2 separate regions of the Homo sapiens genome follow, and region 2 is linked to region 1. The links come from fine-mapping of genetic effects on gene expression. A gene starts in region 1. The other region holds a variant in brackets. All regions are shown on one strand. Distances are between the middles of the regions.

Region 1 (4,388 bases):
TGCCTCAGCCTCCCAAAGTGCTGGGGTTACAGGCGCGAGTCACTGTGCCCAGCCTTTTTTTTTTTTTTTTTTTTGAGACAGAGTCTCACTCTGTCGCCTAGGCCAGTGGCACAATCTCGGCTCACTGCAGCCTCTGCCTCCCGGGTTCAAGCGATTCTCCTGCCTCAGCCTCCCAAGTAGCTGGGATTACAGGCATCCACCACCACACCTGGCTTATTTTTGTATTTTTAGTAGAGACGGGGTCTCACCACGTTGGCCAGGCTGGTCTCGAACTCCTGACCTTATGTGATCCGCCTGCCTCAGCCTCCCAAAGTGCTGGGATTACAGGCATGAGTCACCGCCCCAGCCTGAGAGTCTTTCCTAAGCCTCATTCTCCACACACTCTATCCTCCCTCCCCCAACCAACCAAACTGGACCGGAACAGGATGTTACACTCTCCTTCCAAGAACTCCTGCTGAGCCAGGGAAAACCACTTCCTAGCAGGGCAGGGGTCCCAGGCAGGAAGGGACGTTGGGGGGCCTACACCAGGCAGCCACAGCCTGGGAGCAGAGCCGGAGACATATTCACACAGTTAGGAGAACTAGAAGCAAACCCACAGAGTTGACAAAAAGCTCTGCCTCTTACTCCCAAATTCCCTTGTATACCTCTCCCTGTTTTCTTCCCATTTGGAATCTCAAGTCCCCTCCGTCCTGAATCTCTGCATCCTCACGCCTCTGCTGTCCCCTCTAGATGCCCCCCAACCTTCCCTGTCTCCAATCCCCCTCCTCTGGAGTTGTTCCCTTTTGACCTCCACTTTCTCAGTCTCAGTTCCCCTCCTTGGGGCCTCAATGGGCTTTTTACTGGTGACATCCCTTGTCCCACTCCCAAGCTTCCTCCCTTCTTCAAAAGGTCACATTTTGCCTCCAAGGACCCTGTTCCTGGAGGAGACTCCGCCCCCGCTCTGACACTCTTTCTCATTCGTTTTCTTTCCCAACTTCCAGCCCAAAGAACCCTTTCCTAGATCCAAAGCCCCAACCTGGGGGATAGGGGCACTCCTAAATCCAATGTTGAGTCTTTGCCCCAACAAAGATTCCTCCCCAGGTCTCACACTTTCAAGCCTACTCCCCACCCCACAAGATCTCTCCTCTTGGAAAGACCTATTCAGTTGCTCCCCATTCTTTCCGAGTGTCCATCTTACCTCCAGGTCCTCTCTCCTTTTACAGCGCTTTCCCAGACCCTTAAGTTTCATTCCCTACAGTTGCCTCCTTTTGGTTTCCTGTGCCAGGTCTCTTCTTGAGATCATCCCTCTCTCACAGGCAGTCTCCTGCCCCTGTCTCAACATCCCCTCTCCACCTGCAATCAGATCCTTGTCTCTAGAGACTCCTCCCATCAAGAAAACCTCCCTCCCCTTTTCCAAGGTCTCGCGTTCTCGTCCCAGCGCTCCCGCCACACTTCCAGAGCGCCTTCCTCTTTCGGACGCCCTCTCCCCACCTCCAATGCCTTCTCGCTACCCACAAGACTGTGTCTCACGAGTTTCCTCTCGTTTCAAAGCTTCCAACCATCTACAACGTTTCCCACCTGCACAGCCCTTTCCCCTTGGAACACCACCCCCAATGCCCGTCGCCGCGAGACCCCTGGTAACCCCCGCGCGCAGAATCACCGCCCTGTGCCCTCCTTCCCGGCCCTGGATCGGTCCCAATCCCCAGAGCCCGCGCCTGACCCAGACCATCCGCGGCAGAGAAGGGACTTGTCAGCGCCCGATCCAGCCTCGGCTATTTACGCGTGGGCCCCCCCTCCGCCAGTCCCCGGCGTAGCGCTCCCCCGTTACCATGGCGACCCCCGTCCAGACCCCAGCGGCCCCGGTCCCGCGGCGACTGGGCAGCTCCGGCTCAGGGTGCAGTTGTAGGGCCCAGAGCTAGAGCGGACTTCCGGTAGAAAAACCCGCCTGCCTTCTCGCGCACAGACCCCTGGGAGTTGTAGTTTCACCAAAGGGGCCAGCCTGGGTGAAGATGGGTGAAGAGTCAGAGCCAGTCCTTTTCCTACCAAACGAGTCAGATCCCAAGTGCATGCTGGGATTTGTGGACAAACATCTTTACAGAGGACTACAATTCCCGAGATGCTGAAGAACCAGCGGTGAAGGCGTTGCATTCAGGGAAATGTAGTTCTCTTAGGTCCCCTCCCCCCACCCAGGGGAGAAGGGCATGCTGGGAATAGTAGTTTTAAATTTTAAAAAACTGTCCTGGGGAGATAGAAAATGTCTTTCCATTCCTCATCCAGTGATTTCTTTAATTTTTTTAAAAATAGAGACAGGGGTCTAGATATATTGCCTAGGTTGATCTCGAACTCAGCTTCAAGCGACCCTCAGCCTTCCAAATCACCAGGATTACAGGCATGAGCCACCACAACACCAAGCCAGTGTTTTGCTTAAAATACGTTGCGTGTGTCTCTCGGGAGACAACAGTTTAAAAGCATAAATTTGAACCGGCCCGGCGCGGTGGCTTACTCCTGTAATCCCAGCACTTTGGGAGTCCGAGGCAGGCAGATCACTTGGTTAGGAGTTCGAGACCAGCCTAGCCAGCATGGCGAAACCCCATCTCTACTAAAAATACAAAAAATTAGCCAGGCATGGTGGTGCGCACCTGTAGTCCCAGCTACTCGGGAGGCTGAGGCAGGAGAATCACTTGAAGCCCGGAGGCAGAGGTTGCAGTGAGCCCAGATCTCGCCACTGCACTCCAGCCTGGGCAATAGAGAGAGACTCCAAAAAAAAAAAAAAATCTCTAGTTTGGCGGGGGCATGATGGCCCATGCTTGTAATCCCAGCACTTTGAGAAGCTGAGGTGGGTGGATCACCTAAGGTCAGGACTTCGAGACCAGCATGGCCAACACGGTGAAACCATTTCTACTAAAAATATAAAAATTAGCTGGGTGTGATGGCAGGTGCCTGTAATCCCAGCAACTCGGGAAGCTGAGGCAGGAGAATTGCTTGAACCTGGGAGGCAGAGGTTGCAGTGAGCCGAGATCACACCATTGCACCCTAGCTGGAATGACAAGAGCGAAACTCTGTCAAAAAAAAAAAAAACCCTCCAGGTCAGCAGTTAGTTTAGTGTTTTTTTGGTGTGTCTTTGTTTTTGCTTTTTTCTGAAAGAGGGTCTCCCTTGGTCACCCAGGCTGTAGCGCAGTGGCATGATCTCAGCTCACTGAAGCCTCAACCTGCTGGGCTCAAGTGATCCTCCCACTTCAGCCTCCCGAGTAGCTGAGACTACATACACATGCCGTCACACCTGGCTAATTTTTTGTACTTTTTGTAGAGACAGGGTCTTGCTATGTTGCCTAGGCTGCTCTTGAACTCCTGAGCTCAAGCGATCCTCCCTCCTCCACCTCCCAAAGTATTGAGATTACAGGCGTGATTTTTTAAATGGCCTTTATTACATTTTAAAAATTATTTTATTTGCCCTATGAGTATGTGTGTATGTTTGTCTAGATCTCTCATTAGGTAGTGAGTTGTTGAGGGCAGGGACCCTGTCTGATAACTGTATCTTCATTACCTAGAACATGACAGATGGTAAGCAGTCAATAAAGTTATTACTATTAGTACTGAGGGGAGATTGGCCCTAATAAGAACAAAGCATGCCAGGCATGGTGGCTCACTCCAGTAATCTCAGCACTTTGGAATGCCAAGGCAGGCAGATCACCTGAGGTCAGGAGTTCGAGACCAGCCTGCCCAACGTGGCGAAACAGCACCTCTAATAAAAATACAAAAATTGGCCGGGCTTGGTAGCACTTGCCTGTAATACCAGCTACTTGGGAGGCTGAGGCAGGAGAAGCACTTGAACCCTGGAGATGGAGGTTGCAGTGAGCCGAGATCGTGCCACTGCACTCCAGCCTGGGGGACAGAGAGAGAGAGAGACTCCATTTCAAAGAAATAATAATAATAAATTAAATAAATAAAACAAAATGTATTGTAGAATTATGTAAATTTAAGGTATAGTACTGGCAGAATAACCAACACATAGTTGTTGAATATTATAGGGGCAAAAAGAGGCCAGAGATCATTTCTGTCTTGTGTACTTTTCTGTCTCCAACAGGGTTGATACTAGGATGACACAAGCAAAGTGTCCAGGTTGCAAAATTTTAAAAGGACCTCACTCTTAGATGCCAATTCCTGTCTTACACAGGACTGAGAATATGTGCCTCATTAAATTTTGTGCCCTCAACACGTCACTTGCCTCCCCTTAGTCCCAGTCCTGATCTCCAGTGTTCAACTTAATACTTGGCACAACTCTGGTGTTCAATAAACATTTGCTGAATGAATGAATGCATTTGCAGCAAGAAAACAGACACTGCCCCCACCCTCACAGCATTCACAGTCTAGCAGGAAAAATGGACTTAAATGACATAACATAAATAAAT
Region 2 (4,388 bases), 88 kb after region 1:
AGCCTCCCAAGTAGCTGGGATTACAGGCGCCCACCACTACGCCTGGCTAATTTTTGTGTTTTTAGTAGAGACACGGTTTCACCATGTTGGCCAAGCTGGTCTCAAACTCCTGACCTGAGGTGATCCACCCGCCTCGGCCTCCCAAAGTGCTGGGAATACAGGCATGAGTCACCGTATCCAGCCACTTCTTGACATTCTTTCTAGCAGTTTTTATACCACTGCTTCCCTTCTGGAAGCCTTACTGATGTTTAAGTTACATGTTGATACTCACTTTGTTTTTGTGCTTCCCTTTCTCTTTCCTGGACAGAAACCAAAGCCCAAACCCCGGCCATCCATCACAAAGGCAACCTGGGAGAGTAACTATTTTGGGGTGCCCTTAACAACTGTCGTGACTCCAGAGAAGCCGATCCCCATTTTTATTGAAAGATGTATTGAGTACATTGAAGCCACAGGTAAGAGTATTACCTCATAGCAGTTTATAACTTTCACTGTCTACAGGATGCTTACTGGAGGGTCAAGCCATCTGGAGATTCTGGAATCAGTTGTTGTTGATTGTGAGATGCTCTTGGAGAAGGAGCTGAGCAGTCCCAACAGTTGTCAGATGTGTAGATTCTCCATTTGTGTGCAGTTTTGAGGCTGTCGTTGGGCATTTATTAGGCCTTGGCCTACGAAGGAGCTGTTCTGTGCTCAAGGTGGCAGCTATGGCTGCTTGGGCGCTTTCTCTGTGCTACCTCACCCACCAGAGCATCAGCACTCTGTCAGTTGCCTGCCCGCCTGTGTTCCCTGCAGATCTGTGAACTCCTTGAGGGTTGTGCTATCATTGTGTCCTCAGTACTATAGTGGATACATAATACATTTTGGTTTAGTAAAATTAATACAGCCCTCAGCATTGTTCGGATGCCTGAGACCCATGTATTGATAGGATTTTTTTCTGAGGTAAGAAAATGATTAGGATGTTTGGGATATCTTCTGGTTATGCCGCTCCTCTGACAACTTGATGCTATCACAAAGGTAGACTGTCTTGGGAAATTTTTTTGCATTGTTCTTGAAATAATTAAGTTTTACTTGTGTTGAAACCATTTGCTTTATTCATTTGAGCTCTCATGTGTCCCTTTGGCCTTCCAGTTTCACTAAGGTGGGTTCTTGAGCATTCGGAGTTGGGCTCAGGAACACAGGCTTAAACTAATTTGAAACTAAGGTAGGGATTACAGCCTTCCAATCTGTTCTTTCTAACTCTGATATTATCTACAGTGGTATTAAGTATTGTGTGGTGTGGACAGCCTACTAGGCTCTGCTGATAATTTCAGCAGCATCGTGTGAAGCTGAGTGACAGTGTTCATATTTACTTAGGATGTTGTAAAGCAGGGAAGATGGCTTTATTTATTATTTTATTTTTATTTTTATTTTTATTTTTTGAAATAGAGTCTCACTCTGTTGCCCAGGCTGGAGTGCAGTGACACGATCTCAACTCACTGCAACCTCCGCCTCCCAGGTTCAAGCGATTCTCCTGCTTCAGCCTCTGAGTAGCTGGGATTACAGGCGCCCGCCATGACGCCCAACTAATTTTTGTATTTTTAGTAGAGACGGGTTTTTGCCATGTTGGCCAGGCTGTTCTTGAACTCCTGACCTCAGGTGATCTGCCCGCCTCGGCCTCCCAAAGTGCTGGGATTACAGGCATGAGTTACGGTGCCCAGCCGAAGATAGCATTTTTTTTTTTTTTGAGATGGAGTCTCTCTCTGTTGCCAAGCTGGAGTGCAGTGGCATGATCTTGGCTCACTGCAACCTCTGCCTCCCAGGTTCAAGTGATTCTCCTGCCTCAGCCTCCTGAGTAGCTGGGATTACAGGTGCACACCACCATGCCCGGCTAATTTTTGTATTTTTAATAGAGATAGGGTTTCACCACATTGGTCAGGCTGTCTCAAACTCCTGACCTCGTGATCCGCCCACCTCAGCCTGCCAAAGTGCTGGGATTACAGGCATGAGCCACTGCGCCTGGCCTGAAGATAGTTTTTAAGTTGGAGCCCACCAAAGACTTTGTATTTATTTCCTAGGTTTTCTGTGGAAACCAGAGAAATAATTCCCCCCAGGCTTGAATCTCAGTAATAAGCACTTGGCATAATCATTACAGATCTATAGCTTTGTTTAGTCCATTCTGTACCCAAAGCGGTTTCTCATTGTCCATCTTTTTTTTTTCCTGCTGTAGACACAGGGGTCTCACTTATTGCCCAGGCTAGTCTCACAATCCTAGCTTCAAATGATCCTCCTACCTTGGCCTCCTAAAGTCCTGGGATTACAGGCGTGAGCTACCATGCCTGGCTTCAGTGTCCATCTTTTTGACACTCGTTTTATATTAATTTCCTCCTTTATCTGTCTCTATAAAATGTTTGAAAGTTGCAGGTGTGATATGCACCTTTA[CATTTATTT/C]ATTTATTTATTTATTTATTTATTTATTTATTTATTATTTAATTTTTTTAGATGGAGTCTAACTCTGTCACCCAGGCTGGAGTGCAGTGGCACGATCTAGACTCACTGCAACCTCTGCCTCCTGGGTTCAAGCAATCCTCCCACCTCAGGCTCCTGAGTAGCTAGGATTACCGGCATGCACCACCACACCTGGCTAATTTTTTTTGTATTTTTAGTAGAGATGGAGTTTCACCATGTTGGCCAGGCTCGTCTCAAACTCCTGACCTCAAGCAATCCACCCGCCTTGGCCTCCCAAAGTGCTGGGATTACAGGCGTGAGCCACCATGCCCGGCCTGCACCTTTACTTTTAAATACTTCAGTGGGTATTTCCCAAAAACATTCTCTTATAGAACCACTGTGCATTTATCAAAATTAGGAAATCAACATTGATCTAGTACTAATCTGTCTGTAATCTAATCTATAGACATTCTCATTTCATCAGTTTTCCCACTACCTTCCTTTATAGCAACAGACAAAACACTGTTTTGGTCCAGGACCTTATCCTGGACCACACGTTACATTTAGTGGTCAAATCTGGCCCAGCACAGTGGCTCACGACTGTAGTCCCAGCACTTTGGGAGGCCGAGGCAAGCAGATCATGAGGTCAAGAGATCGAGACCATCCTGGCCAACATGGTGAAACCCCGTCTCTACTAAAAATACAAAAAATTAGGCCGGGGCGGTGGCTCACGCTTGTAGTTCCAGTACTTTGAGAGGCTGAGGCGGAAGATCAGGAATTCGATACCAGCCTGACCAACATGGAGAAACCCAGTCTCTACTAAAAATATAAAATTAGCCAGGCTTGGTGGTGCATGCCTGTAATCCTAGCTAGTCGGGAGGCTGAAGCAGGAGAATCGCTTGAACCTGGGAGGCGGAGGTTGCGGTGAGCCAAGATCGCACCATTGCACTCCAGCCTGGCCAACAAGAGCAAAACTGTGTCTCAAAAAAAAAAAAAAAAAAATTAGCTGGGCATGGTGGCACGCACCTGTAGTCCCAGCTACTCGGGAAGCTGAGGCAGGAGAATCGTTTGAACCCAGAAGGCAGTGGTTGGAATGAGCCGAGATCACGCCACTGCACTCCAGCCTGGCGACAGAGCTAGACTCCATCTCAAAAACCAAAAAACCAAAAAAATAAAATCACCAATCAGTTATTTTGTAGGGTGTTCCTCAGCTTAGCTTTGTTTTCCCTTTTTTTTTTTTTTTTAATTTTTTGTATTTTTGGTAGAGATGGGGTTTCTGTGTTTCCCAGGCTGGTCTCAAACTCCTGAGCTCAAGCTATCCACAAGCCTCGACCTCCCAAAGTGCTGGCATTACAGGCGTGAGCCACTGTGCCCGGCCTTGGCTTTGTTTTAGTTTTTTGGATATTTCATCGTGATCAAGTTCTGGGTTTGCACTTCTGGCAGATACCACAGGGCAGCAATGCCTTTGCTCTGTCCCCTCCACTTCATCTCTGCTGCCCACCATCACCCACCTTCTCAGTCCAGTCTATGGGTATGACAGTTTATCTGCTGAAAACCCATCCTTGCTTCTTTGTTGCCTACCAGATGCAGGTCGCACTCATAATCCTCCTTCCCGGACTCAGGAACAGCAAGACTGTTACTATGCCATTGTCCCCTGCCCTCCTTCCCACCCTCCTTTTTTTTCCCTCTCCCACTCCCTTCTTTCACCCCTTTCTTTCTGTTTTATGCTGCTTCAAGTATTAATTTTAAAATTGTTCTACAAGAATGCGATTTATCAGAAGGATGTGAACCAAGCAGAATTTCTTAGTATTTCTTTGCCTTAGGGCATTCCCCTTGTGTGGTTTAAAATTTGTCCCCCATTCCTTTTTGCCTGTGGAACTTATCCTTATTCTTCAAGAGACTCCTACTCCTAATAGCACTTTGAATTTAACCTCCCTGGTAGTTCTTCTCAGCCAAATTTCACCTTCC

Direction of the effects. Alleles are on the strand shown, and positions count from the first base shown. SD is a standard deviation of normalised expression in the study named.
For the expression in monocytes after interferon gamma of the gene that starts at base 1,890 in region 1, allele C in region 2 goes with a higher level than allele CATTTATTT (moderate effect, 0.66 SD a copy in Fairfax 2014).

The links. PIP is the estimated chance that this variant, and not a neighbour inherited with it, causes the effect.
Region 2: its variant is the best candidate, but not a certain one, in a credible set for the expression of AP2S1 in monocytes after interferon gamma (Fairfax 2014, PIP 0.63).

The regions. Positions count from the first base shown.
Region 1 is chr19:46,848,957-46,853,344 of GRCh38, forward strand. AP2S1 (adaptor related protein complex 2 subunit sigma 1) reads right to left here and starts at 1,890. Exons shown (of 5, transcript NM_004069.6): 1 at 1,808-1,890. The coding sequence starts at 1,810. RefSeq lists an enhancer at 1,905-2,214.
Region 2 is chr19:46,936,957-46,941,344 of GRCh38, forward strand. ARHGAP35 (Rho GTPase activating protein 35) reads left to right here. Exons shown (of 7, transcript NM_004491.5): 3 at 308-452. Among named protein-coding and RNA genes, the nearest start is that of ARHGAP35, 78 kb to the left of the region's middle. The variant CATTTATTT/C (reference allele first, on the strand shown) is at 2,416.